Linked DNA regions of Homo sapiens: regions 2 and 3 are each linked to region 1. The links come from fine-mapping of genetic effects on gene expression. A gene starts in region 1. Each other region holds a variant in brackets. All regions are shown on one strand. Distances are between the middles of the regions. Region 1 holds the start of PFKFB2 (6-phosphofructo-2-kinase/fructose-2,6-biphosphatase 2). Region 2 overlaps PIGR (polymeric immunoglobulin receptor). Region 3 overlaps PFKFB2 (6-phosphofructo-2-kinase/fructose-2,6-biphosphatase 2).

Region 1 (10,539 bases):
TTGGATGGGAAATATGACTTTCATTTTTTGAGAAATAAATGTAGAAAGATCTCAATGGAGAAGTGGGAGGAGGGGCCCAGGTAGAGAACCACCCTCGGAAGGAAAAGTTTCCTAAGGGTGTTTGGCAAGAAGTACTCAGAGTGACCCTAGTGGTGAGGAGGGAGAAATGGAGGCCCAGACCTGGGGTCAGAGGGCTTGGCTTTTAGTCCTTTACCCACTGCACACATGGAAAATTCCTGAGTCTCAGCAGGAGCCCCTCCAAGGTAGGTAAAGGAGCAACATAAGTGATTTTCATCTGTGTTCAAATAGGGAGCTTAAAGGCAAGCAAACTGTACCCTGAAGCCTCAGCTGGCATTAATCCCTGATCACTGGCCCCTAACAAGCAGATAGCCTCTGCATGGGATCAGCTGTCTCAGGTTTAAGTAGTAAAATCCCCTGAGTCTTCACTTTCTCCAGCTCGGCTCAATGCCTGCTCTCAATCCCCCATGATTTGGCTCATTACCTGCACTTCTAGGCCTGCTTTGTCCGCACCTTCCAGCCCATTAGGCACTTCCCCCGAAGGTCCTATTACCCTCCCTAAAGTTTAAAATGAACTGATACTTGGGAGCTGCTCTGAAGGCAACCAGGGAACCAGCTGCTCTTGTTTACCCATGTGGACAGAGAATGCTAAGAACAACAACAACAAAAAACTGCATCCACTGGGACCTCCCAAGAGCCCTCCAGCAACGCACCTCTCGCCTCTGTCCAGAATACACTTAAGCACACCTGCTACAACCAGGGCTTCTCATTTTCTGGAGTACAAAACTAAACCACACTTCCTATCTCAAATTACCACACTGGCAAAAGTAGGAACATTCTGTCCTGCCTGTTAAAAAACAAAACCACCTGCCACTGCCACCTGATTAATTTCAGAGACAATGTAACCCATCTCTTGATAGACAATGGAAAACTGTTTCAATCCTGAAATTCTCTTCCACCTTCTTTAAGCCAGGTTCAACTCCTTTTCTTAAACTTAAACTCATTTTCCTTTCATAAACTTGCTTAGATAAAATGAAGACTTGAGGCTGGGCGCAGTGGCTTATGCCTGTAATCCTCACTTTGGGAGGCCAAGTTGGGTGGATCGCCTGAACCCAGGAGTTTGAGACCAGCCTTGGCAACATGGTGAAACACTATCTCTACTAAAAATATAAAAATTAGCCAGTCTCATAACCCGGTCTCAAAATAAATAAATAAATGTATTTTAAAAAAAAGATTTACAAAAAAAATGAGGACTTGATAACTTCCCTCGTGTAAATGGAAAAACTCAAGCCTGGAGAAATTAAGAGCTTTGCCCATGGTCCCACAATAGACAGTCAAGGTCAGGGTTCTGACCAGTCTCCTGATCTCATGACTGCCCATTCAGTCCCAGCTGCCAGCTCCTGTGCCTCATGTCAGCACTTGACAAAGGTTCCCTCACGGTAAACACAACTTGCTCTCCATTCTAATCCTGAAGGATGGTCTAGGAGAGCAATGGTTCCCAGCCTTTTCAGGACCCAGGACGTCTTCTTTTATTGGCTCTAAAGAGGCCTAATATTTAGAAATATGCTGCCCATAAAGCATGTTTCATTAGTGACATTTTATCTTTATTCATCAGAAGTCAGAACTGCTGATTATCTCCTGCCAGTTGACAGGCATGAAATAACCAAGTTCGTATAACTACGGTCAAACACTAAGAAAGCTGATGTTTCAGTTAACCACTATGGCTATAGTTGATGCTGCCCAATTTCCATCAAATATCTTAAAATATTGAAAACAGCTTACAATATAGAACTTCTTAGGAGAGCAAATTAGTAATACTGATGAACATTTCCAATGTGTCTATCTTTTCTATTATTTCTGTAGGAAAAGTTGCTGTCACAAATGTGCAAAGGTGTACGTGTAAGAATGGTCACTGCAGCACTCTTTGTGATGATGAAAAACTGGAAACAATTTAAATACCTATCCGTGGAAAGCTGGCATATCCATACAATGCAGAATGAGGTAAATCTGCATTTATCAACATTAAAAGGATGTCCACAAGACAGTAACTTATTTAAAAAAATAAAAAAGGAAATGGCAGCTGAACAGAATATGAACAATATGAACCTACCTTTATTAATAGGATATACCAGAATAAGATGTCTAAAAGAATCAAATTTGGAAGAAACAGGAGTCTTTTACTTTTCGCTTTCTAAATCCTTTCTGTAGTTTGAATTTTTTATGAACATACATTGCTTTTGTATTTAGGGAAAGGTACATGGAAGAATTTGTCTGTTCCAGAACTACTCAAAAAAAAAAATTAAAAAGAAAAAAAAAAAGCATGTAGATTTCTCCATTTCTGCTTTTTTTTTTTCCCCCTGAGATGGAGTCTCACTTTGTCACCCAGGCTGTAGTGCAGTGGCGCGATCTCGGCTCACTGCAAGCTCCGCCTCCCGGGTTCAAGCCATTCTCCTGCCTCAGCTTCCCGAGTAGCTGGGACTACAGGCGCCCGCCACCATGCCCGGCTAGTTTTTTTTTTTTTTTTTTTTTTTTTTGTAGTTTTTTTGTATTTTTAGTAGAGACGGGGTTTCACCATGTTAGCCAGGATGGTCTTGATCTCCTGACCTCATGATCCACCCTCCTCGGCCTCCCAAAGTGCTGGGATTACAGGCGTGAGCCACCACACCCGGCCCTCCATTTCTGCTTTCATAAGCCCTGAAACCAGTCCTCTGAGCACCGTAAAGGCACCTCGGCCAGTAGCCCCTCTTCGCCCCATCCCTGGAGCAGTTGAAGTCCCAGTAATGCTCCTTCGGAGGTTTTGGCTCCCTAAAGTCATTCTTCAGCCCTGAAATCCTCAAGCCCAGTCACTTCCCGGAGTCAAAGTTAGCCAACACAGGTGTAATGAGCAGCAAGGGAACAACGGTTAAGCTATTAATAAAGCAGCCGCTGATGTGAACACTAAGCTGCCAGGTGAACCAGCTCCAAAGTACAGCTCTATAGCAGAGGAAAAGGAAGTAAGTTAACACATATACTCATAACTTTATTTTCTCCTTTGACTATGTCTGCAACAGTCTCACAGCCCGACTGTGACGTGAGGAGAGAATAGGGTAAATAAATCACAGTGGCTTTAGGACACCTTCTTCTTCTTAGAGAAGAAAAAGGCATTTAGAGAAACTAGAGTATGGAAAAAAAGAGATTAGAGCCCAGAGCAGGAATTAGAGTCTAGAAGACAGGAAAGAAACCAGGGATTACTGCTTCCCTGACTTGAAAGCCCTCAAGGCAAAGGAACTACAGAAGAGTTAGGAAAGCAGGTAGAAGAGATTCCTACCATGGAGAAAAAAGCAAAGCTAGAAGGACTGACACATGGCATCGTGTAGTCAGAGACTCCCACAATTATCGATCCTGCCCCCCAGCCCCAGCTCTCTTTTGGATCAAGCACCCTAGTAACATTAGTGTACCTCCCTGTAAGAGGTGCATCCTAGATCCCCAAATCTGGGTTACAATATTGTCAAATAAGAGAAGAAAACATTTTTTACTGAAAAAATAATTATTCACAGCCCTCTTTTAAATAGTGAGCTTCCAATACAGCATTTGAGTATGATTCAATATAAACATTTCAGGAATAAATACAACAGGCAGATTGAGTCACCTGTGAAAAATAACACACATTAGATATATGCCCAACACTCTTCTAAGCGCCTTCCTACATTTAGTCATTTAATCCTCACATCACTCTTGGGGGAGACACTGTTAGTATTCCCACTTTTAAAAGGAGTAAACTGAGGCATGGAGAGAACAAGCAACTTGTTCAAGAGCTAAGAAGTCATAAACCCGGGATTCAAACTCAGGCAGTCTGACTCCAGAGGCTATACTCAAACATCATGCTATACTAGTTATCTCTCATGGGGTATTCTGCCCTTAGCACCTGGCTTCTTGCCCTGGCAGAGAAAAGAGACCCTAATTGTAGACCCTAACTCTGCCAACCCCAGTATCACATCCAGCCAGCTGCTTCTGTCCAGCAGGCTCCATGGGTGCTAGGTGAAGAGAGATTATCATTGTCAATCATGAAACTGACAAGGGCATGACATCAAGGTCGAGGCTCTGGGAAAAGCTTTGAACATGAGATAATTCCTGGTCTCATGCTGGTCGGCTGTTTCCACCTGCTGAGATATATATATTCCTTGACTAACTGGCTATATATATATATATATATATAACCACTGAAGTGAGAAGAACTGACTGACAGGATTCTGCAGGAATGGTGCCATCCAGAAGCAGAGGCAAGAGTTAGCATTCCTTGAAGTTCCCCAAAATATGTGGGGAACAGAGTCCCAGATCTTTTGGGAAGCTATGCAGCCTATGATGCTTAGAAATACAGATGCTTGGGGACAGGAAATGATGCTTCATCTCCTCGCAAACCCTCCTGCTGTTTCTATCTAAAAGACAGGCATAGAAATGAAAATGCTCATGTGAAAGCTGTCCTCAAAAAAATGAACCTATAGGGAAAATAGTTTACAAAGTACAAAGGCTAAACCTGTGAGAAAGTAAGATGCCCAAGACACTGTGAGAAGCCAAGTGTCAGGGCTCATTCCCCTCAGGCCTGTAGGAAGGAAACCAAGCAGCACTGGCTCCCATCTGCAATTTCTACAATGAGCAGCACTCTCCCAAAACTTAGCCCAACAGATAAAGCTGGTAACATTACCAGCTCCAAGTAATTCCTGCACCTGCAACTGTGCCTTACTCATTGTGTGTACAATAATGTTAGTTCTAACTTCCATCAGCAAGCCAGTGTGCAAACATCCCAGGAGACAGAGATTCAGTTTAAGAAAGCAGTAAGAAACTGCTGGACTACACCAGTAGTCAAGCCCCAAGAACAGACATTTCACTAAGTCTACTTGTTTTAGACAGGACATTCTACCCTGGAGACTTTGCATTAAATTTCCATGTCAAATAATTATTTATCACTCCCACCAAGCAGCAGAGTCCAGGATTATAACTATATTCCCAAGATAAAATGCTGAGAGAGAGCAGTCCCTCCTCTCTGCCAGAACTCACAACATTTCTTCTCTGACATTCGAAGATTTGGGGTTTTGGTTTCATAGCTGTTGTTGTTCTGTTCTGAGGAAGATGCCCCAGACATGGCAGCTCTTCAGATGTCTGAAACAGAGAAGTAGAATGTAAAAAAGGGAAGGGGAAGAAAGAAGACATAACTTAAAAAAAGTCAGTGCATTGGATCCGTGTGGTATAAGTAAAAACACCCTGGGCCAAGAGGCAGGTTCAGTCCTGTTTCTCCCAGTTAGCAGCTACTTCTCTAGCCCTCTGTTTCCTCACCTATAAAAAGAGTTGCACTAGAACCTTACATTTATCTTCTGACTTACGAGTCTACATTTACAGACGTTATCTTCTTCAGTCCTAACAATAATCTTGTAATTAGGCAGATTTTGCCACCATTATTTCTTCTCATTTTACAGATTGAAAATTTGAGATTCATCGAATTAAGTGTCCTGCTCAAGGTTTCATGACCTCAGATTCTAGTTTTAAGAATCTGGGCAGAGTAGTGGCAGCAGTTGGGGTGGGGTGGGTTATGTATAGACGAAGTACATTACCAGGAAATTAACTCCAATCTAACGGTAGGACTCAGTTTTGCAAACAGTGAGGCCGGGCACGGTGGCTCACTCCTGGAATTCCAACACTTGGGGAGGCTGAGGCGGGCGGATCAAGAGGTCAAGAGATAGAGACCATCCTGGCCAACATGGTGAAACCTCGTCTCTACTAAAAATACAAAAATTAGCCGGGCCTGGTGGTGCGCGCCTGTAGTCCCAGCTACTCGGGAGGCTGAGGCAGGAGAATCGCTTGAACCCGGGAGGCGGAGGTTGCAGTGAGCCAAGATCCCGCCACTGCACTCCAGCCTAGCGACAGAGCGAGACTCTGTCAAAAAAAAAAAAAAAAAAAATGAAAAATGAAAAAGAAAGAAAGAAAAGAAAAAAGTGAGGGACGTGGGAAAATCTCGAACATATTCCCTGAAGGAAAAACAGTAACTGGACCCCAAGACAGCCCTAGCACGTCGTCATTTCTCCTCTAGTGCATTCTCAAGCCCTGCTCCGCACCCTCTCCCTAGTTACCCCCGGGACTCAGTCTAAAGAACGCCGGAGCGCTGAGGTGGTAAATGACTTCCCCAAGGTCACCTCAGGAAGAGGGGTAAGCCCTGATTCAAACTGGAGTGGGAAAGTCCTGAGCTCATGCCCCCAATTCAGACAACAGGGGGCTGGTGAGGACGGAAGATCCTGCGCCTTCAAGAGCCTTACACGATTCCTTTACTGACCACACAAATCCTCCAACCCAAACACAGACTGTGGCTCCCGGTCCCAGAACGTCCGCGCTGCCTGCCATGCCTGGGGACCAGCACCTCTCCCCGCACTTCATCCGGGGGCACGCAGCCCCCACATCCCGCCCCGCTAGACCCTACCCGGGGCTGCGCAGCTGTGGCTCACCCTACGATCTCTCCTAAGATCCCTCCCTGCCTTGGCCCCGGCGCCTGCCCTGTAACGCGACCGAACCGAGCCGACAGCTTGTGGCCGGGACCGGCGCTACAGTCGCCGGCAAATCATGTGAGCCCGTCTGGCCCCGCCCCCTCGCGCGTAGGTCCTCACCTGGAGAGAATCATCCACCAATCGGGCGCCTGCAGGACCCAGGGGGCGGGGCAGGGTCGCAATCGCCTAACTGGCTCGGGAAGGCGGCTGGAAGTCGGAACCAGAGAGATCACAAGCTCCTGAGTTTCCCAGCGCCGAGGAGCCTGGTGGCACTGTTGCTTGGTAACTAATAGGGCTGGGGGCGGTGTTAATAAAAAGCTTGACTTTTTTCTGACTCTCGCGAGAGTAGACTATTCGGTAGGCGTCTTGAGAGCGGGTGTGCCGGGTGACGAGAAAATGCTGCAAAGATTAACGCTCTCATTCCTGAATCCCAGCAGAACCTCATTAGATCCATAAATGGGAACGTAAGCTTTAAAGATGTTTTTGCTAGAATAAACTACCACAACACTTGAGCTAATTATGCCTTAGGGTGTATACATACCCGGCTCCACAGGTCAGACGCTGTGACCTAAGAAAATCAACCACTCTCATCGTTGAACCAGAAGCTTCCCTGGACCCACCCATACACCCCATTGGAGTTTTTTTTGTTTTGGTTTGGTTTGGTTTTTGTTTTTTGAGATGGAGTTTTGCTCTTGTTGCCCAGGCTGGAGTGCAATGGCACGACCTTGGCACCGCAACTTTTGCCTCCCGTGTTCAAGCGATTCTCCTGCCTCCCAGTATCTAGAATTAAAGGCATGGACCACCACGCCCAGCTAATTTTGTATTTTTAGTAGAGACGGGGTTTCTCCATATTGATGAGGCTGGTCTCGAACTTCTGACCTCGGGTGATTCACCCGCCTCGGCCTCCCAAAGTGCTGGGATTACAGGTGTGAGCCACTGCGCCCGGCCACCCCGGTGGACTTCTAACCACTCCTACCTTCCCTCCTACCTACCCCCTAACCCAGGCTGTATCATCCGTTGCAGTCGTCTTGAAGAACCAAGGAGGAAAATTGCACCAGCAAAAAAAAATTGAGTCATGAAAGATGTGAAAAGATGGAAACATTACATATAATTTATTCAGAAGCAAAGTCTTTTACAGTGGAGGTGAGTTTGCACCAAGTGAACTACACTTTTCATAGTTGCCCCAGCGGGCCCGTTTGATGCTTGATAAACCCACTCTTGGCAAGTGGGACTTGCTGTCTGAATCCCGGCTGGATAAAGAACAATGAGTATGGATTTCTTGGAAAAGAGAGATATAAATTCAGGGATGTCTTTATTCCTCCTTCGCCTGGGAATTAAACTAATTCTTCCAAAAGTTCAAACAGTTATCTCCTCTTTAAGGCTTTTTACAACTCCCAGAGTGCTCTAGTTGCCCTCTCTATGTCTATACAACTCTGTCTTTATTCATTCAGCCAGTATTTGTTGAACACTTTTTATTTGCGAGGCACAGTCCTGGGTTCTAGGCATACACGTTTGAAAAGGTACAGATAATCTAGCATTATCACGTTGCTTTGAAATTCAGTGGCTGTGTGTCTCACACCCCACCCTGTCTCCCAACTGCAATGAATACTTGTTACAATGAAGGCAGGAATGAAGTCTTCATATTTGTATGCCCAGGAACTGAACTGGAATCTGATGACACGCGTTACACGACTCCTCCTTACACTGCCACCACCTGAATGAGGCAGCTGCCCTGGGCCCAGATGCTGACCTCATACTGTGCTTTCTGAAGTGGCAAATAGACGTTTTCAAGCACAGTCCCAGGGAGGCAGAAAGGCCAGTCTTTTGGCCCCTGGAACCCCAATGAGTCAATGTTTAATGCAGCCACGAGTCTAGTCACAAGTGTGATTGTTTTTGACTGGTCCTTTGACTCACTGACCATTCCTGGCATTCGTTTGCGTTGTGAACTATGATTCTGTTTCTCCTGGTGTAGTCTGGGTGTAGTGTGGAAGCCCCAATTTAATAATTTCCGACCTCACTAAGTGCAAGGTCACATTCCAATCTCCAGACCTTCATTCAGGAACTCCTTCCCCCGCCCTCTTTTCTTGAGCATATATGCTACCCACGCGGAGGGCACCTCACTCGCTCTATAGGTAGCAAGACCCGTTGTCCTTTAGGAATACGGAGGTTTACATCTTCGTTCTGAGGGTGGGGGAAAAATCAGTTGTCACTTTAAAAGAGTTCGCGCTTGCTAAGGTACTAAGGCAGAAGCCGCACCGAAGCGTCGCGATAACTGCAACCACCCGCAACTTCTCGCGATGTTTGGCCCCGCTAAAGGTCGCCATTTTGGAGTCCACCCGGCGCCTGGTTTCCCCGGCGGCGTCTCCCAACAGGCTGCCGGGACCAAAGCTGGCCCCGCGGGTGCCTGGCCTGTGGGCAGCCGGACCGACACGATGTGGCGGCTCCGCTGCAAGGCCAAGGACGGCACCCATGTTTTGCAGGGGCTGTCCAGCCGGACCCGGGTGCGGGAACTCCAGGGCCAAATTGCCGCCATCACCGGGATCGCCCCCGGCGGTCAGCGAATCCTCGTCGGATACCCTCCCGAGTGCCTGGATCTCAGCAATGGGGATACCATTCTGGAAGACTTGCCCATCCAATCTGGTAAGGAATCAGGGCTGGGGCCAGGGAAAGTCCCGGGAGGATGGAGAGGGGCGTGAGAGAGAACAAAACACCAGTCAAGGCAAGGTGGCTGTGAGTCGGCGGGGGGGCTTTGAGGCCAGGGGCGAGGATAGATCAAAGAACAGAGAATGCTGACGGGGGCCAGGGCAAGTGTCTAGCAACTCCTTGTCTTGACACAGGGTTGAAAGGGAACCCAAAGCCTTGAAGACCCCCTTCCCCATTCCGCTTTCTGGTCGGCTTTGAAACTATCCCATTTTGTTTTCCCTCGGCGTCCACAAAAATATAAAGTAGGGCCTATTTTCTCTGTCCTTATGTCTCTTTTTCCCTATATCACCGATGAGATCTCAAGGGTGCAGGATTTTTTTTTTCTTGATTCATTTTTGCAGTCCCCTTCGTAGATACTTCGTTTGACAGGCATACTCATTTTCGAGTTAGCTTTTAAAACACCCACTGAAAGCTCTTTCAATTTCTAACCAGCAGCAGTTATTTCTGTGCCATATCAAAACTTGAACATCAGTGTTTATAATTAAAAGCTTTCAGTTGCTGTATCAAGGATGTTGTAAACACTCTAGAGTAGATAAGTTTCCGGAGAAGGAGAACCCCCTAGCGGCCTACTCTGTAGTGAGCACCTTCTGTAAAATACTGTATAAGGAAAGGAAATTTTGTTTTTGAAATGTATCTTTTTAGGTAAGCTTGAAGTTGTTTACTCCAGACCCCTTCACTAAATTGGGATGCAACCTCAAGTGTTTTTTGTTCTTTTTTCATCTTTATGAAAATTCAGTGAACAAAGATTCTTACTGGTAACTTACTTGCAAAACTGTATTCTCCTTAGTAACCCCAGTTTATGCTTTAACTCCTTCAGTTTGTAATTTACAGACTTGGCTAGAGAACACTCGGTTTCTTCTGTAATTTCTTTGCAGATCGGGATTTGTTTTATTTTTAACAGGTGACATGCTGATCATTGAAGAAGACCAAACCAGGCCCAGAAGTTCACCTGCATTTACTAAACGTGGTGCTTCTAGTTACGTCAGGGAAACTTTGCCTGTGCTTACCAGAACCGTGGTCCCAGCAGACAACTCTTGCCTCTTTACTAGTGTGTACTATGTCGTCGAAGGAGGAGTCTTGAATCCAGCTTGTGCCCCTGAGATGAGACGCCTCATAGCACAAATTGTAGCAAGCGATCCAGACTTCTATAGTGAGGCAATACTGGGAAAAACAAATCAAGAGTACTGTGACTGGATCAAAAGGGATGACACTTGGGGAGGAGCAATAGAGATATCGATTTTGTCCAAGTTTTACCAATGTGAAATATGTGTAGTGGATACACAGACAGTAAGAATTGATCGTTTTGGGG
Region 2 (11,019 bases), 130 kb after region 1:
CAGCGTCTCAGAGCCTTGAAAATCTCCCGGGCATAAGTGATGGGTCAGCCTTTATGCACAGCTGGTCTATGACACGAAGCCTTGAAGGTCCCCACTATACTTTTGGTAGTAATGGGGCAGAGATCATCTGTGACAGCTGAAGAAGGCCATCACAGCTGTTTCTAATGTCATCCTGGGTCCTACCCCAACAGCCTTGAGATCGAACCCTGACCCTGTGATTCCTCATGAAGTCTCCCCCAGACTCCTTCACCTCGAGGAGTAAGAGCATAGAGAAAAATCACAACCCAGGCCCACTCTTCCCTGCTGCAGGGTCCCGCGATGTCAGCCTAGCGAAGGCAGACGCTGCTCCTGATGAGAAGGTGCTAGACTCTGGTTTTCGGGAGATTGAGAACAAAGCCATTCAGGATCCCAGGCTTTTTGCAGAGGAAAAGGCGGTGGCAGATACAAGAGATCAAGCCGATGGGAGCAGAGCATCTGTGGATTCCGGCAGGTAAGGAAGGATTCAAGGCTCCCCACTCGGAGAACACCCCAGAGCCGAGCACCTGAGGCTGGGCCACCAGGTCCAAGGAGGAAAGCCCATCTGTCTCTTGAGCACTGGGGCAGCCCTTACTACCTCTGCTTATATGTGGGAGGGTCCTATGGTACCCTCTGCCCTTCTCCCATGGCTGGGGAGGTGTTTACAATTCAGTTCAATCTTCCAGGCCTAGGATGCAACAAGGCCCAGTGCGTGCCTTTGCCAGTCTGGGAAGGCTTCTTAGAAGAACAGAGCTAGGGAGCTGCATCAGCAGGGTGGGGTGGATAAACCTGGGAGGAAAAAGGACTAAGCCAACCTTGCCAGCACATCGTCGGGCCCCCAGATCTCCCTTCCAGGGATGAACTAACTTAAGCCTTCTTCCAGCTCTGAGGAACAAGGTGGAAGCTCCAGAGCGCTGGTCTCCACCCTGGTGCCCCTGGGCCTGGTGCTGGCAGTGGGAGCCGTGGCTGTGGGGGTGGCCAGAGCCCGGCACAGGAAGAACGTCGGTGAGTCCCTGGGATACTCCCTGCCTCCCACCTCCAACCCGAGCCCTCAGTCCTGAATCATCCACCCATAGAGGAAGCTGCTGTGTCTCTTCTTTTTCATGAGCTAAAACAAAGGATCCCGAGAAAGCAGGATGGGGAAAGATAAACCCACACATACTCGAAACTGAAATTCAGAGCTGCTGTCCAAATACTAACACTGGAAAATCATCTCCAATTACCCAGGATCTAGGTTCAGAGACAGGGCTGCCAGGAAGAGGAGATTGGGTTTCAGGAGACCCTGGGCTTGGACTAATTGGATAACTAATGAGCTGTGTGACATTGAGCCATCCTTATGCCATGCCTCAGTTTCCTCATGGCTCAAGTCAAGGATGATAATCAGGACCTCACGGGGCTGATGTGAGGACCAAAGGAGATGCTGTGCATTGAAAGGTCCCAGAGTGACAAAGATCAGGGATTACCAAGTCCTGATTACCCAGGAAAAGGGACTGGGGAGGAGACTCGGATCATTTCCATCCCCCTGGGTCATAGTCAGAGCTGCACCACCTCAGCTGTCCTGCAGGGCTACAGTGGATCCGCCCAGAGAGAAGCAGCCCAGCCTGGCCTTCTAGGTCCCAGCCCCTGTCCTTACACCAACTCCTCTTCCTCCCGGACAGACCGAGTTTCAATCAGAAGCTACAGGACAGACATTAGCATGTCAGACTTCGAGAACTCCAGGGAATTTGGAGCCAATGACAACATGGGAGCCTCTTCGATCACTCAGGAGACATCCCTCGGAGGAAAAGAAGGTATGACCCTCACTCAAGGGAATGCTCAGCCCCTGGGGAGAGTAAGAATTGGTCTCACATCTGGGTTGGGAAAAGGAGGCTAGTAAGGGCTAACCTACCCTCTTTCTTCACACAGAGTTTGTTGCCACCACTGAGAGCACCACAGAGACCAAAGAACCCAAGAAGGCAAAAAGGGTGAGGAGGAAGAAGGAAGCCCCACTACATGACAAAGAAATGCAGCATGAGGGGATGCAGTTAGACTTCAGAAAGAACTACCTCAACATGGGGGCCGATCCCAGAATAGGGAGGATGATATAAATAGTCCTCAGGAGTCCTCAGGACTTTTTGAGGAAGAACTATATCTTACTGGTTGTGGGATGCTGATGTGGATAAGGCCCAGGAAGGAGGTGAGCTATATGATTAGGCTGTAAAACTGCAGGAGAGAGGCAGGCCAGGAGATGAGGAAAGCAGGTGCATAAAAGATGGGAAGCTACAATGCCAAATGCTGGTGATTAAATGGATGCTCTTCCTGGGTTGGGGGACCCAAGGACCTCAGGCCACACATCCTCCCTTGAGGGTTTGCTCAGGACCAGCTTTTTGCCTGGGCCTAGGAGACATTTGCTTGCGGTGGGCAGTTTGAGGCTAGAAGCCCCTGCTCACTTCTCTTGAAGCCCCACCAGAGGCAACTCCTGCCTTGGGTGCCATATACCATCCCCTCAATCTGCCCTAGGACTCAGGGGACCAAGAAAAATAACATCTCATGCCTTTAATCCCGAGGTGAGAGTTTTTGTTGTTGTTGTTGTTGTTTTTATCATATCTACTTTTTCTTGAAACATCTCTGGCATTTAGCAAAGTTAGAACGAGTTATTCCTGGGACAGCCTTCCCCTTTAACTTTGTGGTGCCAAAAAGCTACCTGTCTGGGCTGGTGGAGAAAGAAAAACATACACCACCGTGGTTGACCCCAGCCTAGGCCACCTTGCCCGTGGACTGTGTGGGCAGCTTCCGGGGACAGGCCCGGGCAACAGAGGCGGTTCCACTCCGTGTGTCAGAAGGAGGTAGTGAGACAGAAGAAGATATTTTTAGAGGCTGCAACTTTCCATTTCTCAAAATGCGTCCTTCTTGGTGAGCATGGGGGCTGGGATGAGAACAGTGGGCCCCAAAGGCTTGTGTTGCTTGGACCAAGATCACGAATTCAGGACATTAAGCACCTCCCCTCCCCTGACTCCACCCACTGAGCCAGTGCCCCCAACACTGATGCCTCTCCTCTTGCCCCTTAGTCATCCAAGGAGGAAGCCGAGATGGCCTACAAAGACTTCCTGCTCCAGTCCAGCACCGTGGCCGCCGAGGCCCAGGACGGCCCCCAGGAAGCCTAGACGGTGTCGCCGCCTGCTCCCTGCACCCATGACAATCACCTTCAGAATCATGTCGATCCTGGGGCCCTCAGCTCCTGGGGACCCCACTCCCTGCTCTAACACCTGCCTAGGTTTTTCCTACTGTCCTCAGAGGCGTGCTGGTCCCCTCCTCAGTGACATCAAAGCCTGGCCTAATTGTTCCTATTGGGGATGAGGGTGGCATGAGGAGGTCCCACTTGCAACTTCTTTCTGTTGAGAGAACCTCAGGTACGGAGAAGAATAGAGGTCCTCATGGGTCCCTTGAAGGAAGAGGGACCAGGGTGGGAGAGCTGATTGCAGAAAGGAGAGACGTGCAGCGCCCCTCTGCACCCTTATCATGGGATGTCAACAGAATTTTTCCCTCCACTCCATCCCTCCCTCCCGTCCTTCCCCTCTTCTTCTTTCCTTCCATCAAAAGATGTATTTGAATTCATACTAGAATTCAGGTGCTTTGCTAGATGCTGTGACAGGTATGCCACCAACACTGCTCACAGCCTTTCTGAGGACACCAGTGAAAGAAGCCACAGCTCTTCTTGGCGTATTTATACTCACTGAGTCTTAACTTTTCACCAGGGGTGCTCACCTCTGCCCCTATTGGGAGAGGTCATAAAATGTCTCGAGTCCTAAGGCCTTAGGGGTCATGTATGATGAGCATACACACAGGTAATTATAAACCCACATTCTTACCATTTCACACATAAGAAAATTGAGGTTTGGAAGAGTGAAGCGTTTTTCTTTTTCTTTTTTTTTTTTGAGACGGAGTCTCTCACTGTCGCCCAGGCTGGAGTGCAGTGGCGCAATCTCGGCTCACTGCAACCTCCGCCTCCCAGGTTGACACCATTCTCCTGCCTCACCCTCCCAAGTAGCTGGGACTACAGGCGCCTGCCAGCACGCCTGGCTAATTTTTTGTATTTTTAGTAGAGACAGGGTTTCACCGTGTTAGCCAGGATGGTCTCGATCTCCTGACCTCGTGATCCGCCTGCCTCTGCCTCCCAAAGTGCTGGGATTACAGGCGTGAGCCACCGCGTCCGGCCTCTTTTTTTCTTTTCTTTTTTTTGAGACAAAGTCTCACTGTGTCACCCAGACTGGAATGCAGTGACACAATCTCGGCTCACTGAAACCTCTGCCTTCCAGGTTCAAGCTATTCTCATGCCTCAGCCTCTCAAGTAGCTGGGACTACAGATGTGGGCCACCATGTCTGGCTAATTTTTTTTTTTTTTTTTTTTTTTTGTAGAGACAGGGTTTCGCCATGTTGACGAGACTGGTCTCGAACTCCTGGCCTCAAGTGATCTGCCGCCTCAGCTTCTCAAAGTACTGGGATTATATAGGCATGAGCCACTGAGCCTGGCCCTGA[A/G]GCGTTTTTCTCAAAGGCCCTCAGTGAGATAAATTAGATTTGGCATCTCCTGTCCTGGGCCAGGGATCTCTCTACAAGAGCCCCTGCCCCTCTGTTGGAGGCACAGTTTTAGAATAAGGAGGAGGAGGGAGAAGAGAAAATGTAAAGGAGGGAGATCTTTCCCAGGCCGCACCATTTCTGTCACTCACATGGACCCAAGATAAAAGAATGGCCAAACCCTCACAACCCCTGATGTTTGAAGAGTTCCAAGTTGAAGGGAAACAAAGAAGTGTTTGATGGTGCCAGAGAGGGGCTGCTCTCCAGAAAGCTAAAATTTAATTTCTTTTTTCCTCTGAGTTCTGTACTTCAACCAGCCTACAAGCTGGCACTTGCTAACAAATCAGAAATATGACAATTAATGATTAAAGACTGTGATTGCCACCAACGAGGCTCAGACTGTATTTGCACCCAATACCTTCTGTCTCCCAGACAGCCTCTTCAGAGCTTTTCTTTTCTTTTTCTTTTCCTTTTTTTTTTTTAAGACAGGGCACTCTGTTGCCCAGGCTGGAGTGCAGTGGTGCAATCATGGCTCACTGCAGCCTCAACCTCCTGGTTTCAAGTGATCCTTCCACCTCAGCCTCCAGAGTAGCTTGGACTACAGGCGTCCACCACCACACTGGCTAACTTTTTGTATTTTTTTGTAGAGACAGAATTTCGCCATGTTGCCTATGCAGGTGTTGAATTCCTGGGCTCAACTGATCCTCCCACCTCTGCCTCCCAGAGTGCTGGGATCACAGATGTGAGCCACTGCATCTGGCTGCCTTTTGCTTTGGTCCCAATTTTAGGCACCCTGGGACCCCCTTGTCTGTTAAGATCATTCCTAGGTTCTGGTGCTGAACCATGTCATATCCTCTAAGGGCTGCCCAAGCTGTCTGTTGGCAGCTAGCCCCCCATCTCACCCCTAGACTCTTCCACAGGGCTTCTGTGTGTGGAGAGTTCTCTCTGCAAGAGAGTTCTCCCCAGTCTGCCATCCTGCCTGATGTGAACCTTTGCTTCCACCCAGGCCTTAAACATAATGCTGTGGATGCTATGAGCTTCCCAAGCCTACCTTTTCCTGGGACTCAGACTTCAGGCCTCCTTTGGTGTTCCCTCCAGCCCCACTAACTGCAGTACTCCAGTCTCAGTTCCCAGGCCCTGACCTGGGTCAGAGTCTTGGGCTTCTATCCAGCCAGAAGAGGGGGCATCAGAAATGTTTTTTTCTTTCTTCTGTGATGGGGATGCATACCTTCTGGAATGACAGCAAATCGTTCCAGGAGGATCAAAATGACAGGTGTGTCAGAAACTACCACTGTCTTACCCTTCCAGGAAGCTGTTCTCTGACTCACCAAAGGGCCATGTTTATGGTAGAGGATTAAGATGCAACTTCTGTACGCATTGCAATAACCAGCGAGCCAGTCCTGAACTCGTGTAGCCTATCCCAGCCCTTTGAAGCAAAGGTCAAGAAATGTCACTAAAGCCAAAAGCGATCTTATATTATTCCTAAGTGATATTGTCAGTAAGGCTCAAAGTCCATCTGCTCCCCGTGTAGCACAAGAAACCCTTTTAAATAAGGAAGCTAGTTCATAGGTTCCAGTGGACGTGAGTTTGGAGAGGATATGATTCAGCTTAGTATAGGGGAGTGACCATAAACTGCAGGATTGATGATGATAAACCAATTAGCAACGGTCAGTGGCCCCGAGCATTCAAGGAACTGTTTAAACATTTGATGACAAGGAAATCTTTCCCAAGTTCTTGAATTATCTTAATGTTTATTCTTTTTTAAAAGTCCAATATGTAAAGACAGGACTATTATTAAGGCCCAACAGGACTATTATGAAGGCCCAACTATTATTAATGCTCAACCACTGCTGGGCATTATTAAGGCCAAACAGTGGTTAGGAATTTTTTTTTTTTTTTTTTTTTTTTTTTTTTTTTTTTTTTTTTGGTAGAGACAGGGTCTTGTTTGTTGCCCAGGCTGGTCTGGAACTCCTGGCCTCAAGCAATCCTTCTGCCTCTGCCTCCCAAAGCATGGGGACGACAGGCGTGAGCCACTGCACCCAGCCAGGAACTTGTTTATAGCAATTGATTTTGTTTTGTAAAGCTAAAAAATAGATCTCTGATTTAGACTTTTCCAAAACTCAAGACAGAACATCTCTCCTAAGAACATTAAACAGCAGCGAGAGGAACTGACTGTGCTATGGTCTATGAAACCGGTCCCCCAGGCAGAGAAACAAGTAGAGTTTCCCACCCCATCCCTCCCAGCTTTCCTAAAATAATTATCTCTACTAAGGAGTCTGCGCAACAAAAATAAGAGATCATCTCAAAAAGGCTACATGTCTAAGTGGACAGTGGACATGCTGAGAGGCAAGCTGTGAGACTGAGACCAAAGGTCCCAGCAGGCTGTGGAGCAAGGCAGGCATGGAGAGAGGATCATCGGTATAGGAGCCAAGCAGCTCTGGAGTGTCTCTTCCAAGGCTGATTCTTAAAAGGGCAGCCAAGCCACTCTCCCTAGAGCCAAAAATCTTTGTCCTAGATACAGGGACATGAATATCCTAAAATCCAGGTTGTTGCTGTTATGTCACATTGAAGTTGATCCAAAAGTCCTGCATATTTGGAGTTTTAACCTCAGAACTCCAATAGGAATATGGCCATAGTCAGGAAAGAAATCTTAGTCATCAAAATCCTACCATTTATTATCTTTAAAAAAGTCACATGGCTGGGTGCGGTGGCTCACACCTGTAATCCCAGCACTTTGGGAAGCCGAGGCGGGCAGATCACAAGGTCAGGAGATCGAGACCATCCTGGCCAACATGGTGAAACCCCGTCTCTACTAAAAATACAAAAATTAGCTGGGCGTGGTGGTGGGCGCCTGTAATCCCAGCTACTTGGGAGGCTGAGGCAGGAGAATTGCCTGAACGCAGGAGGCGGAGGTTGCAGTGAGCCGAGATCGCGCCACTGCACTCCAGCTTGGGGACAAAGTGAGACTCTGCCAAAAAAAAAAAAAAAGTCACAAATGGGCTTATTGTTGTAAAGGTAAATGCTCCAAGGCCCTGCTGCTGTGGAGTGGCTTGCTCTGGGACAGGCAAGCCTGGGGTCCTGCGGTGCTTGGAAGGACGGGACAACAGGGTCCCTGAGTCAGGTACCTCTACCTGGGGAGGGGGCTTGTTCTTGGTGAGTCCACCAGACAAGGAGATTCTTGTGGTCTGTCATTGCAGAGAACAGTGTTGGGTCATGGAGAGGACCACCTGAGGATGGAGGCCCTCAGTTTGGGAAGGCCCAGAAAATGGCCCTTGTAACCCGGCCATGCGGAGGTCAAAGCAGAGAAAAGCAATAACCAAGCAGAACCCATGACAACAAGCTCCACCCAGTGGCGGTGGCTCATCTCCACTGCACTCTGACCACATCGCAGGCTGTGTGCTGAGTCCCTTGTAACACTTGCCTCATGTGATCCTCACAACTGCCTTACGAGAAACGTTCTTCTTAGCCCATCTGTAACATAGGGAGGATGGCAGAGCCTAAGCTAAAAGGTCATCATACAGAGCGAATGAACACACCTCAAGGACTTCACTTTCCATTGGATCTGGCATTATTTATTCCCTCCACCCGCTGTCGGGGGGCTGTGAATGTTTTCCATCAGGTTCACCCCTTCTGGACCCTAGAGGGTGTTGGGCCATTGGCTCCCTTGCCCCATGGTGTGCTCCAGCCTGGCAGACACTCCCCTGGGAGTAAGAGTGCCAGGGCACCATGGTAGCCCTGTGAGTCAGAAAGGAGAAATCGAGCTTAGACGAGAAAAAAAGAAAGAAGAAAATAAGGATGTAAGAATTGTAAAGTTCACAATTTCACCAGCAGTCAGTCTTCCCTTGGGCCCCAACCCCCATGACCCAGGGGCAACAGCTAAAGGTAAATGGAACAAGCCCAGTTCTGGGGATTTTGATCCCCTCAAACTCCCGACATTCGCCGCCTGCCCAGCCGTCCTCACACCCCTAACTCTTAAGTCTTGTAACCTAATGGGATGTTTTCAGGGTTTCACTTGGGCCACACGTGATGCAAAAAGCTCTCCTGCCCACTCCCATCCCACACACCTTCCGCCCTGCCCGGCAGGCCCCAGCCTCAGCCCAGCCAAACCCTGATCTTCACAGACATGCACACACACTCACACTCCACAGAGCACACACACAACCACACACCACACACACACACTCAACCACACACCACACACTCATAACCACACACCACACACTCACACACTCTACAGAGCACACACACACTCATGGACGCACACCACACACACACAACCACACACCACACACACACTCAACCACACACACACTAGACAGAGCATAGAGTGCGCACACACACACTCATAGCCACACACCACGCAGTGACACACACTCATAACTACATACCACACACAACACATAGCACACACACATAGCCACACACCACACATTCACACACACTCATAGCCACACACCACACATTCACACACTCCACAGAGCACACACACACTCATGGACACACATCACACACACAATCACACACACATAACCACACACCACACACACTAGACAGAGCACACACACTCATAGCCACACACCACACACACACTCCACAGAGCACACACACACTCATAGCCACACACCACACACACACTCCACAGTGCACACACACACTCATAGCCACACGCCACACACTCACACACTCTACAGAGCACACACACACTCATGGACACACACCACACACACAATCACACACACATAACCACACACCACACACACTAGACAGAGAACACACACACTCATAACCACACACCACACACTCACACACTCAACCACTCACACACTAGACACAGCATAGAGTGTGCACACACACACTCATAGCCACACACCACGCAGTGACACACACTCATAACTACATACCACACACAACACATAGCACACACACATAGCCGCACACCACACATTCACACACACACATACATCACACAGCCACGCATCCTACATTCACACACATACCACACAGCACATACACACTCATAGCCACACATCATACATTCACACAGACACATTACACATAACACACTCACACTCTCATAGCCACACACTACATGTTCACACTCACTACACACACTCACACTGTAGCCACACACCACACACACACCACACACGTATCACACAACATACATTGCACCCTTACACACACCTCAGACACACACCACACATACTTCACACGCTCAAACATCAGAGTCATACAACACACATCATACACTCACACATTCATTCATACATATATTCATACTCACACACTCTTGCCCCCACACACATCACGTTCATTCACTCATATTCCCCTTCTCTGTCTCTCCAAGACAGCCCCAGGCCTCAAGCCCAGTGCATGGTGGAGCCCAGCTGTGTGACAGCTCTGGGGCATTGGGAAGAGCCCGCTAAGTAGGGAAGGGTGGGGCTAATCCCAGCTGGGAGCTCTGGCACTAAGGAGAGGCCCGAGGCTGCCCTCTGCCATCTTGGCCCATTTCAGGGCTGGAGGACATCACAACCACAGCTGCTCCGGGCCAGGGGAGATTCAGATAGGGATGGGGCAGGGCAGGCTGCCCACCCCCCCACACACTTCCTCTGCACCTGCTCTGAGCCTCACATTCAACTTCCACCACGGATGTTGTTGTTTTAGAGAACATGTGACAAATCTGCTGTGTGGGGGCGAGCAGGGAGTGGCTGACACAACCACTGTGGAGCCCGGGTCTGTCAGGCACATCCCCCCAGAAACAGTGTGAGTATAGCCCGGATCCTCCAGGGGCACAAGAGGTCCTTTCACCTGGGGTTGGGGCCCTGAGAACTGACCTCCAGGGATGAAACTTCCAGGAACAGAGCCCTGAGAATGCCCTCATAAGTAATACCCCTGCGCAGCTCACAGTGAAGGCTTCTTAAAGCACTTCCATGCCTGTGAGTTCTGCTGGGCCTCAGAAAAGCCATGTGAGGTGGGCAGGGTAGGGGCAATCCCTACTTTATCAAGGAAAAAACCGAGGCCCAGGGAAATTTGCCCAAAGCTAGAAAGTGCCAAGCCAGTACAAGACCTGAGGTCTTCTGACTTGCATCCAAAACTCTTCCCAAGATGCCCTGTGGCCTCAGCATCTCTCTCCATCAGTCATGGGCCTTACCCTTGGGCCCTTGGGGTCCTGAAGGAGAGCTCTACCAGGGTGCTGTGACTTCAGGCAAAGTGGCTGCATGACCTGTCACACCCCAGTTCTGGCATTGCCTTGGTGGTCACTGGACAGAGGCCTGAGCCCTTGCCACAGGGCAGCACCTTGTGGGGACACTTTGGGGAGATTAAGGGTGAAGGTTGGCTGAGGTGCTGGGGAGCTATGTGAAGTCCTCAGGAACTGTGTTCTGCAGGAGGGAATGGCAGGGATCATCTAGTCCCAGCTTCGTTTATTTCCTAGATGAAGAAATTCAGGCTCAG
Region 3 (11,019 bases), 23 kb before region 1:
TAATTGCAGGGAAACTCTCCTATAGAATCTAATCTGATTTTCACAGGTAGAGTGTTGCATACAATCAAAAAGGCATTTAAATGCCTTTGGGAATTCAGAAGCGTAGTTGTTCTGCTTGTAAAGGGCTGAAGGAATGCAGCTGACATTGGCTTGATGAGAATAAAAGAAGAAAGACTGTGCTTTGATGTTTTTAAGAGAAAGAAAATATTACTCTCCATGATTACAGTGATGCTATCTCATTAAAAACCACGTTCTTAAATATCCCAGTGTGCAGTAAAAAAATTCCAGTACATCATATATTCCCCTCCTCCGCTTAAATAGTATCAAATGCATGTCACTGGATTATTTTTTCTTTTACATGTTAAAGGAGAGAAATGGACAAGAGAGTATGGACAGTATTACGTAGCTCCTGTTTCCTACCCTGAGGTCCAAGAATGGGTTTCAGGTCATGACCTCCCTAAACTGTATGCAAAACCTATGTGTCAACCTTTTTCTGGGTAGAGAGTCCTTAGCATGTCAAATTCTCAAATGAGTTCAAGAGAATGAATGAAGGTTGGATGGTGCAAAATACTTCTAGAGACCATAAACCTTGGTGATGGGCCATTGTCAGACGCCACAGGAAGTGCCCATGGGCTCATCACCTCCTGCCGAGTTCAAAACCAGCTTGGGCAACATAGTGAGACCCTATTTCTACAAAAATGAAAAATAAATAGCCAGGGCAAGCTAGTGAACCTGAAGGTTGATGCTCCTCACAGTGAGTCCTAAGTGAAGACCCTGGAGAAGTTTAAGAAATGGTGTAATGATGAAACCTACAGGAGAAAGGCAAATAATGACCATCACCCAACACTGAAGTACTCGCTGAGTAATCATTTTCTAATGCTGGTATCTTTGCTAAGTTACCAGCAACATTTTAAAACAGTGTGGCATGTGTCTGTTGGGTCTTAACATTTACCTTGTTCTGAGATATTATTGGCTTTATAAAAATCACGAGTGTTGAGGTGTGTGACTCAGTAATGGTGCTCATTTACCTCTCTGTAAAACCCAGAGAATGATTCCAGACACCCCAGCCTTTTACAAATGATGACTTGATGGCTGAATTAGAGAACACTTGCAGAAGTGCCTGGAGATATTTCCAAGGAAATTAAACCTTGACACCACATCCTCATTACTGTCAGCCCACCAGCTAGATTATTAAAGCTCAATGTATTCATCAGTACACATAACCACTGTCTCTCACCTGTTTTCAAATTGGAGAATTCATAAGTCATTTTCATTCTATCAGAAGAACCCTTGAACTTAAAGAATTTGGAAATCCTCTGTTGTTATTATGAATGTTTCATTTTATCTCTATTGCTGCTGACCCCAAAAGATTGTTCCAAGTTACTTTATCATATACATTATGTAACCATTATCCAACATTATTTGGTGAAGGTCATTCATGAGGGGGAAAGCATCCCCAGTAGAAAGAGATGCGTTAGGTTACAAACCTGCTGTTAACCTTTCCTTTCCAATAATAAACTCTAAACAAAGGTCAGGGACTTTGTTTTAGTCATTGCCTGGCAACTAATGGGTAGTCACTAAATATTTGTTAAATAAATAAATGAAACTCTAGGACGTCAGTAATGCATGGTAGTCACAATCTTACTGATATCATTTTGAAATGCTGATGAAACTTGAACTGGTTAAAATCACTAGTTGGAAATATACATATAATCTAATAATTTGAAAATCATCTTAAAGAAGCTAGTTTCAAACACATTTTAGACAATGTTATTAATATTTTGCATACATATAATGTACCAAATGTTATCTTTTCGTGTGTTATCTTAAAAATTAATTGCATTTTTAATTAAAAATAATTTTATTTTATGTTCTTATTACAAAAGCAATACATATTACTCGCATATTTTAGCATGATTTTATTAATCCAGGAGATAAACACTTCTCCAGAGAAATGCATCTCTTGGTTTACACTTACAATAAAAATCAATGAGAAACAAAGTATTCAAAAAAAATTCACTGTCCCTTAACATCGTTATTTTCCTTTTACAGAAGACAGATATCTACGTTCTGGAAATTTAACTTAAGTTAATATGACATTAGACTTAAAAGCTCTAACTACCTAAATTTCTACAAAAAAAACCCCAAACAAACAAACAAAAAAAAACCTGACAACATAAATTATATTACATTCTGATTAAATACATGCAAACAGTGACAAGAAAACTCAAAAATGCCTTACATGGATAGAATAAATAACTAAATATAAACATTGTCTGATCATCAAAAGACAGTTTTCGATGCAGAGAGAAATCCATATCACAACTAAATCATTATAGTACAGCATGCGGTAGGCAGCCAGATGAAAATCATCTGCTACAGGGTAAGGAGCCTTCCTGAAGGCAGCTTTGTACGTAGAAAAGCAGCTCCTAGTTGCTGGATGCTGAACCGCCTGCAGCCCAGCTTATCACATCTTAGGTAACAGAGTCCTGTATCATCCACAGTATAAAAGAACCATTTGAGAAAAGCTACATATCATTACTTTTCTTGCTACTCACCCTTTTGCCCAGCAAGTGAGCATTTGAGTGAAAAGGAAAAGAAAGAAAAGTAAAGCTAAAAACATACTATTCTTTAAAAAATAGACTTTCCTTGCAAGATATAATATCCTGTGGGGATTCCATACTCTCCTTCAGTAACAGTGACATGTCAAAACCACATTTACAGAGATACATTCATACATTTGACAATCACTGGGGAAGAGTTATCTGATTTGTCTGTAAGGAAAAGCGAATGACTAATGCACTGAGGCGCTGGTCCATGACCCCGCCACCCTCACTTTTATATGAGAGATCAGTGACCACAATAGTGACCAGTGGCCAAGAGGCAGGTATCAGGAGACTACTGCCCTCCAAGTCACAGCCACAGCTCTCTCAAGGACTGTATCATGGTGACAGAGCCCACAGAGGGGCGTGTCTCCTTCCACCTGTTCTGAAGCCAAAACACTCCCTGATCGGGCTGATTCTCAAGGAGCTTTCTTGACTTACTCACGTGATATAAATGGCACTCTACTTTTCTGTCTAGTCCACATTCCCAACCACCCAGGAGAACCACATCAGCCCCATCTTGATGCATGAGAGGCACATGCATCAAGTCAAAAGTACAGTAGCTACAAAAGGGAACTTAGAAGATGGGTACCCATTTTGGGGAGTCTTGCAGTCAGATCCTGTCCTGAAGGGCCTGGAACAAGAAAAACTTCTCTAAATGAAAAGGTTGCCACTGACACTGTTCTTCTATCAAGGCAGAGAAGATGTTTTAGGGACTGAATTTCTCAGAAGACCCTCCATTCACCTGGTGATTTGTCTCTTGCTTCCAATGTGGCAAATGGTAACTGCTAGCATAAGTATATTAGACTCTAGCCTGCTCGCCTGGAACAGTGGCAGAGACCAGCTCTTACCTTCTCACTTGAAAAGTAAATCTGAAGAAGTGCATTTGCACTTTGGGCAAAAAAGAGCCAGCAAAGGATGCAGACAGTCACAGGTAGGATGTTAAATGCCTATACAGAATGAGATTGACCAACTTGGACCAAACTCAGCACAGAGATGACAAAAAGTCACTGGTTCAGGTTGCTAAATGTTTTGAGGCACAGGGAAGTTAAATTTTTCAGTGTAACTGATATTCCCATTAGGCAGGAGGGGAGGAAATATGGTGACGTTTCTCCAGGCCTCGTTTTGGTGGCCCCCAAAGTCCAGTTCCCACTTAACTTCCTGTTCTAGCCTCTGTGAAGCTGACATCCCAAGCTTTTCAGTAGATCCCAGTCGTTTGGAGAGGTGAGGCCTGAACATCCACATCATTAGCAAGGCAACATGAGGGACGCTGCGGAGGGGCGTCTGCGCACAGCCAGTGTGGTCTCTGCTGCCTACGAGCCAGAGAGGAAGAGACACAAAGCTATTACAGCACTGCCAAGCAGCGAACATAAAAGTAGAACAGAATCCTTCCCCTACCTTCCCTCCTCCCTCAACCTCCCCATCCCCACATCCATACACATGCATGAACACACTGGTGTGCCTACACACACACCTTGACTACCCGAATGGCGTAGTCATGGTCTTCTTTCCCTGAGGAGCTGACCTCGTGACCATATTGGACCAGGCACTCCTTTCAGACCTGGACCATAAGCTACATACCCAAGATATGAAGCAGGAGCAGTCAGGATCCCTCTGGTAGAAGGAAATCGTGTAGGCTATGTCAGCCAAAAGACCATGCCAATAAAGTGACACTGTAGTCAGGGGCTACTTGGCTTCTGAGGAGGGTCCCTACTATTTTAGTTATACGAGTCCATTCTGAAACCAGTCATCAGAGCAGATCAACTTCTTCCCATTAACTGGCATCTAACATTTTACCTTGTGGGAAATTTTTCCCCTAGAACAGTGCTTCTCAAATGTTAAATGTGCATATGAATCACCTGGTCGTCCTAGTAAAATGAGGATTCTGACTCCGGAGGTCTGGGATGGGGCCTGGGATTCTGCATTTCTAATGAGCTTCTGGTCTTTGTTAAGGTAACAAGGAATAAGGCATGCGAATGGTAAAACAATCCCATCTGTATTTCCTGTCTCAAAAAAAATTAAATGCTGTTTTATACCCTTGACCATAATCTCTTTAGAAATGGGCAAATCACATTTTAGGAACAACAGTCCAC[C/T]AAGTGCTAAAAAATCTCCAAAAGTTTTCTTTATAATACATAATATGAGTTACATGTTGCTAATGGGAATTACTGCACAGTGCAGTGAAATGTAATTGTTTCTTAATTCTTGCATAAGTGCCAACAGGAACACACAACTATTGAAGTTCATGTGCTTTCCATAATGTTCTTCCTATCTTCCCCAGAAGGTGGCAGAAGAGAGCCACGGCTACACCATGGTCTTCAATTACAGTGCGAACTTCTGTTGGCTTGTCTGAGTCTGAATCCTTGTGCAGCATGAGGCAAAGTTTTAGGGGTGGGGAAGGGATGGGAAACACAACTGAAAATACTAAACAAAAAACCCAGAAGCCTTCTGATAGGTTCAAGTTACTCAACAATTTTATTTACCCATTCTACACACACGCACACAAAAACACATTTCAAATACAGTTATGCACACTTTAAATGGATCTGAGTGGCATACTTTGTTATCAGTGTCACCCGATTAAATCAGAATGTTGCTAAAGACTTATGTTCCTATTTCAACAGAGCAGTGCCTAGGAAATCTACAGTAGAACTCTCTTCCTAGGCTTCCCAATCTGACCCATTCCCATTCAACCCAGAGGTGCTCAGCCCCACACCATCCCCCTTCCCAAAGGGCACCATGTATGATCAGCCCTTTGATTTTGCCATAGCAAAACCATCACCATACCAGCATAAGTTGATCTTCTTGTTAGGTCAATATAATAAAAAACGTACATAAGCAATTCAGATACAAAAACATTGCGTAGGTAAACATTGGTCACAGATATCCAGTGAAAGGCTTACTGGAAAAAATACTTTTGCCAACCCTTAAAATCAATTTTTAAATGCCAAATTTTCTTCTCATTTTTACTTACTAGATTAAGTGTAAAATCCAAATGCATGGCTGACTAAAAATAGCAGCCCTGTCCAATGGAATACAACATTTCAGAACAGGGTAAGCTGGGGACACAGAAGCTTCAGAAATGAACAGTGGAACTGAAGTCCTGCCCTAAAGCAGGGGACTGGATGAGATGACTTCAAGTAAAGGTAACAACTCCAGGCTCTGAACAGGCATTCCCTTAGCTGAGTTCACAAAATACCATAAAAGTGATGCATAACCTTTATCTTGTACAAAATAATGAGAATTTGGCCACTACTATATAAGAAATATCTATTTAAAATCATAGTGTACAGAACTCCCCTATAAAGAAAACACGTGGAGTGCTTAATTCCTTCCTTTGTTAGACACATTTAATAGACAGAGAATTACCATAATGTACATACACTTCAATGGATACAATCAGAAAGCAGGCAGACTGTCAGCTTACAGACCCTAGACCGTTAGTCAGGCAACACCCAAATTTTACTATAGTCTATCTATCAGTCAGCACACAGACACTACTACAGTCTGTCAGTGACAAACAGATCCTACTAGAGTCAATCAGCACACAGATCCTCCTGGTCTACCAGTTGGTCAACATATAGACACTACTAGAGTCTGTCAGTCAGCACACAGACACTAAAGTCTGTCTGTCAGTCAGTCAGCACAGAGATCCAACTAGAGACAGTCTCCTGGACAGTATGGGTCTAAATTAAATCCCTGGACACAATTCTGACATCTGTGTCACCTTCAGGGAAAGTCGATTCTACCCCACCAGTGCTGCAACCCGACTCAGTTGTTACATATTTTCAATAAGTCAAAATACATAGAAAAGCTGGGTAAATCTATCAAATTTCTTAACAATGAACACAACATGGCTTCTGGGCTTGGCAAAGACAATGGAATGTGCATAAGATTACATAACCCAGATACAATTCTTCTGATTACTGGATACTTTTTCCCGTGCCCATTGGCCACTCCAACCACCAATGAGTTTCTGTCAATTAAGATCTCCTGCTCATAAAAAAAAAAAAAAAAGAAAAAAAAAGTAACATAGATGAATTTATTTCCAAACAGCTATATCATATGTTTCTTCAAAATGCCAGTGTCTCTGAAGACCAAATGTGGGTTGCAAAGAGGATTACCCAGATCCTCATATGGAATACTCACCCATTCAGTCTAGGGGTACAAATATATTGTGTCCTTAACTCCAACTTCTTTGGAAACAAACAAACAATAACAACAACAACGAAACACCAGAGGCAAAGATATAGGGCAGATCCCTAGCACAATGCAAGTTTTTAGAAGCTTTTCTTATTCTACTTTAAAACTCAATGTAAAAATCATCCCTTTACCAAAACAAAACAACAATACAGATAAGAGCTAAATTACAATTTAGGGATTAGGAGATAAGAAGAGAAGCAGGTTCTCTAAATCTGCTTTAGAATTCTCTTTCAAATCTGTCATAGTCTTGAAGCAAGAATAAGAAAACAGAATAATTTCCCTTTCCCCACTTTAGACAAGTAAATTTATAAAAAACTTTTTTAGAGGTGAGGTCTCACTATATTGCCCAGGCTGGTCTCAAGTGATTCTCCTGCCTCAGCCTCCCAAGTATCTGGGACTACAGGTATAAGCCACAGCAACCAGCTTATTCCAGTAGATTAAATGCTAATGTCTTTACCTATTTCTCACAAAACAAAACTTACAGCCTCAGCAGAGAGTACTTTTAAGTCCATTTTTATTTTGTAGGACTTGTGATAGACACAGTCATAGTAATGTATACAGATTACCAACATGCATTCAAGTAAGACCAGGAGAGAAAAGATGAGAAGTAGAGCTGAAACTTCTCTAAAATTTGGAGTAAGAGCTCTTTTCCATTCTACATTCTCCTGGCTTCTTCCTGCTAGACTTCTCTGAAGGGATCTTGCTTTAGAAACTAAAGGATGCTGAAGCCCTTGCTTGCCAAATTCCAATTTCTCATGTCCTATCTGAGGATAAGACCACCTCAGCTCCTCTTCTGGAGAAAGCGAACTAGCACAGGTGAGAGTGGGGAAATAACAGCAGGCTGAGAGCCAGAATGAACATCCCAGTGACCTGTCTCTAATGCTGGGTTAATGACAGGTTAACACAATGCTAGCTTGTTAGAGAAGTCCCCTTTTGCTAAGAGTGGGTACAGTGTTAATCCAAAGTCTGTGGATCAAAGTGCTCCCTCTTCTCATTCATTAGGTCTGAATTACTCTTACCTCACAGCAGAAGAAAAGACTGAATGCCCATTTGGGCTACAGATGCCACCATCCAAGCAAATGTGGACAATGCAACCTTGTAAAAGTGCCAAACACGCCTCCCCAACCATATCTCATTCTCACACTGGTGGTGGTGGGGGCATCCCCATCCCCCAACCCCTGTAGTCTCATAGCCATAGGACAACAGAAAAGTCAGGAGAAGCGATGTGATGGTTGAACACTTCTAGACTCAGACTGTTGCTATATTGCAAATGTCCATTTGTTATAAATTACATGTCCTGTCTCTTAAAATAACCTTCCTCTGGACAAGGACCTTTTCTTCTACTTCTGTTTAGCTTTCCCCTATCCCTGCCCCTACCAGCCCAAAGCTCCACAAAGACACTAAGTACATGTTATGTAACCACTAAACAGGAATAGCAGGTTACTTAACATCTTGGACACAATTTTGAGAAGAATCTAGGTAAGCAGCCTTTAGAAGCTGCCTATGGTATCCTACTTGGGACATACGAGTAAAGGACCCGGGGTCAGGAGTCAGTTGCCAGTGATGACAACCTTTATCATCCTGGCAGGGTCTGCACCTCTCTCCAGGGTGCTTAAAATCCCCAGCTGCTCTCTAGAGACAATTATTTAATTCAGTGATTTGTTCCACATCACTCAGCAATGTAAAGGGTTAAAGATGGGACTAGAACCTAGAATAACCCTCTAAAACACAGCAGCCTGCCTTCCAGGGGGTTATATCATTTAACATTATGATCTGCTCAAACATCAAACCCAAAGAACTGTCCTTTCAGGACTATGAGGAATTCAGAATTCCTAGGCTGACACTTTTGTCTGAGAAACTACTATCCAGTATTTTTCCACCTAACTTCCTAAGGTGGAGTTCTTAACCCGAGCTATGAATCAGAATCATCCGGGAAGCTACTTAAATACATGCATGTCCAGACCCAGATCCCAGAGATTCTGAGTCAGTATTAAGCATAAGGTGGACACAGGCATGTTTATGATTCAACAATCCTAAAGGCAATTCTAAGGAATACTCCTGGATGAGAACCACAGCAAAAAGTCTTCCATTACCAAATGAAAACACCCTTGGAAAATAGCTAACTCCTTCTCACTGGTTACCTCTAAAAGACCAGCAGATAACTTTAAGGTGGGGAGTCACCTATCTCTTTTTAAAATCCCATGAGAACCCTAAACTTGCCTCTCAGAAAAACATACATATATTCGTACATTTTGCATGCAAAATTGGGAAAGAGAATAAGCCATCATGGTCATCAAGGGGCTAAGAATTTCTTCCCTAAACATTTTCTGTTTAACCCTACAAAGAAAATGAAATGACAGAAGTGAATAGAGAAATACAAACAGTTACGAGCTAGATCCCACAGGGTTCCAAGGACTTCTCTGGACATCAAGATGAGATAGTTTCTCTTTATGAACAAAAGAATACTCCAATGAGAGAGATTAAATTCATCATCAAGCTTTTCCACATTTGGGAAAAAAATGGTCATGTAAAAACTATTTTGTTTTGATGTTTCTTTCTTCTTAAGGACAGTGTGCTGAAATTATTCAAAAATAAGCAGTTTTAGTGAACTCTTCTCTGCCTCTTGCCTTGAGCAACTCAAACATCAGTGGTGACTCCTGAATCTAACTGCCCTTCTAAACAGCCCCAGAGGATACTGGCTTTGGCAGGAAAAGTTGCTGTGATTGGCAAAGAACCTGAGAGTCATGGGAGAAAAGACATGACTGCTCTCTAAGAGCCCTGCAAGAGCTAGAGCCCACCCTACTCTCCTAAACCCCACTCTGCAGACCTCAAAAGACCCAGGCCTGACTCTAAATTAAAAATAAAAACCAAGACATTTCCCACATGCTCAGAGCCAGATTCTCCCAGGGCATCGAAGACTTAGAACTGTTTCTCATGAAAGGAGGCAAGAACTCTCACCCTATGTCTACTTGCAAGCTCCAGAATATTCTGTGGATGTCCTGTAGTCTGGGCTGGCCCTTACAGGACCTGGCTGGAGAGGAAGGGAGAAAGGAAAGGAAAGACTCCTCCAGTCCAGATCCATTTAGACCCACTGCAGAAAGCATTAACTGGGCCAGACTTGTCTCTTGTCAATCACCCCTTCCTTCCTAGACAGACACCACAATGCCATGCATTACACTGGACAATCCAGAGGGGACATGAAAGTGGGGGAAGAAAGCAGTCAAGTAAGGAGTGTGAGGAAAACACACATTGAAGAGACAAAAGTGAAGGAAAAATAGACTTTTTGTCCCCCGACTGCTCACCCGCCCTCCATCCCCCAACACTTCACCAACATGAGGACATTAGTGAAGACACCAGGGAACAGAGAGAAGATCCAAGAGTGTGGGGCATGCTCAGCCCCAAGGGAGTGTATCTTTTTCCTCCTCCTCCAGATCATCCCATCTGAGAATCTGTCCTAAAAGACTCAATTTGCTAACTTGCCCCTGGGTGAAAAGATGTTTCAAACTGAAGAACAGCTTAAGTTGTCCTATAAACACATAACCTCATGTTCTGTGTTAAGATTAATGGTGAAGTGTCAGGGGTGGGCATAGAGGGAGGAAGTTAATGACTCCTTGGTGATTAGTGACAAGGGCAGGAGGCCAGGGCTGGAGGGAAACACACAGTTACACCACCGGAATGCTGACTTGGGTCTTCGGCTAGTCGGCCCCTTCTTGCATGTCCTGGGCACGGAGAGGGCTGAGGGGCTTGAGGGGCCGGCTCCCAACACTGTAATTTCTTGGACGCCTTATTGTATTCGAACTGGACAGAGGCGTAAAGCTGTTCCTTCTCATCCTTACAGGGGTTTGGTTCTTGGGGAAGTTGTTCTGATTGGAAATGGAGTGACACCACACAAATGAAAGCCAAGCCAAAAGCTCACTCATACAGGTTAATAATGCGCTTGTAACCACAACAGCTTCCCTCACTCCTGCTCCTCTGCACACAGGGTCCCTCACAGGGCATGGCCCATGGCCTGGCCTCCTAGCATCAGGGGGCTAAAAGGGAGAAGCTCCTTGAGCATAACATTCCAAAGCAGGAAAAAGACCCAAAGAAAGGAAGGGGCTTATTGAAGACCACACAGATTACCAGTGACAGACCTAGGAACAAACCTACACCTCTTGACCCCCACCTTATAGGCTCCTCTGGACTCTGCTTTCTAAAGGGACACTTGGGGTTGGAG

The links. PIP is the estimated chance that this variant, and not a neighbour inherited with it, causes the effect.
Region 2: its variant is fine-mapped to the expression of PFKFB2 in whole blood (TOPMed, PIP 0.96).
Region 3: its variant is fine-mapped to the expression of PFKFB2 in whole blood (TOPMed, PIP above 0.99).

The regions. Positions count from the first base shown.
Region 1 is chr1:207,049,316-207,059,854 of GRCh38, reverse strand. It overlaps PFKFB2 (6-phosphofructo-2-kinase/fructose-2,6-biphosphatase 2), which reads right to left and starts at 6,580. Exons shown (of 15, transcript NM_006212.2): 1 at 6,489-6,580; 2 at 5,053-5,154. The coding sequence starts at 5,137. It overlaps YOD1 (YOD1 deubiquitinase), which reads left to right and starts at 8,647. Exons shown (of 2, transcript NM_018566.4): 1 at 8,647-9,167; 2 at 10,132-10,539. The coding sequence starts at 8,825. RefSeq lists enhancers at 6,650-7,289, 8,513-9,083.
Region 2 is chr1:206,922,457-206,933,475 of GRCh38, reverse strand. It overlaps PIGR (polymeric immunoglobulin receptor), which reads left to right. Exons shown (of 11, transcript NM_002644.4): 7 at 310-490; 8 at 899-1,020; 9 at 1,674-1,805; 10 at 1,921-1,979; 11 at 3,063-4,954. The coding sequence ends at 3,158. It also overlaps a transcript of FCMR not described here. Among named protein-coding and RNA genes, the nearest start is that of FCMR, 6.0 kb to the right of the region's middle. RefSeq lists enhancers at 2,445-3,014, 2,638-3,138, 3,065-3,354, 3,825-3,874, 7,992-8,441 and 2 more. The variant A/G (reference allele first, on the strand shown) is at 4,531.
Region 3 is chr1:207,071,851-207,082,869 of GRCh38, reverse strand. PFKFB2 (6-phosphofructo-2-kinase/fructose-2,6-biphosphatase 2) reads right to left here. Exons shown (of 15, transcript NM_006212.2): 15 at 5,053-10,666. The coding sequence ends at 10,499. Among named protein-coding and RNA genes, the nearest start is that of C4BPB, 12 kb to the left of the region's middle. The variant C/T (reference allele first, on the strand shown) is at 4,697.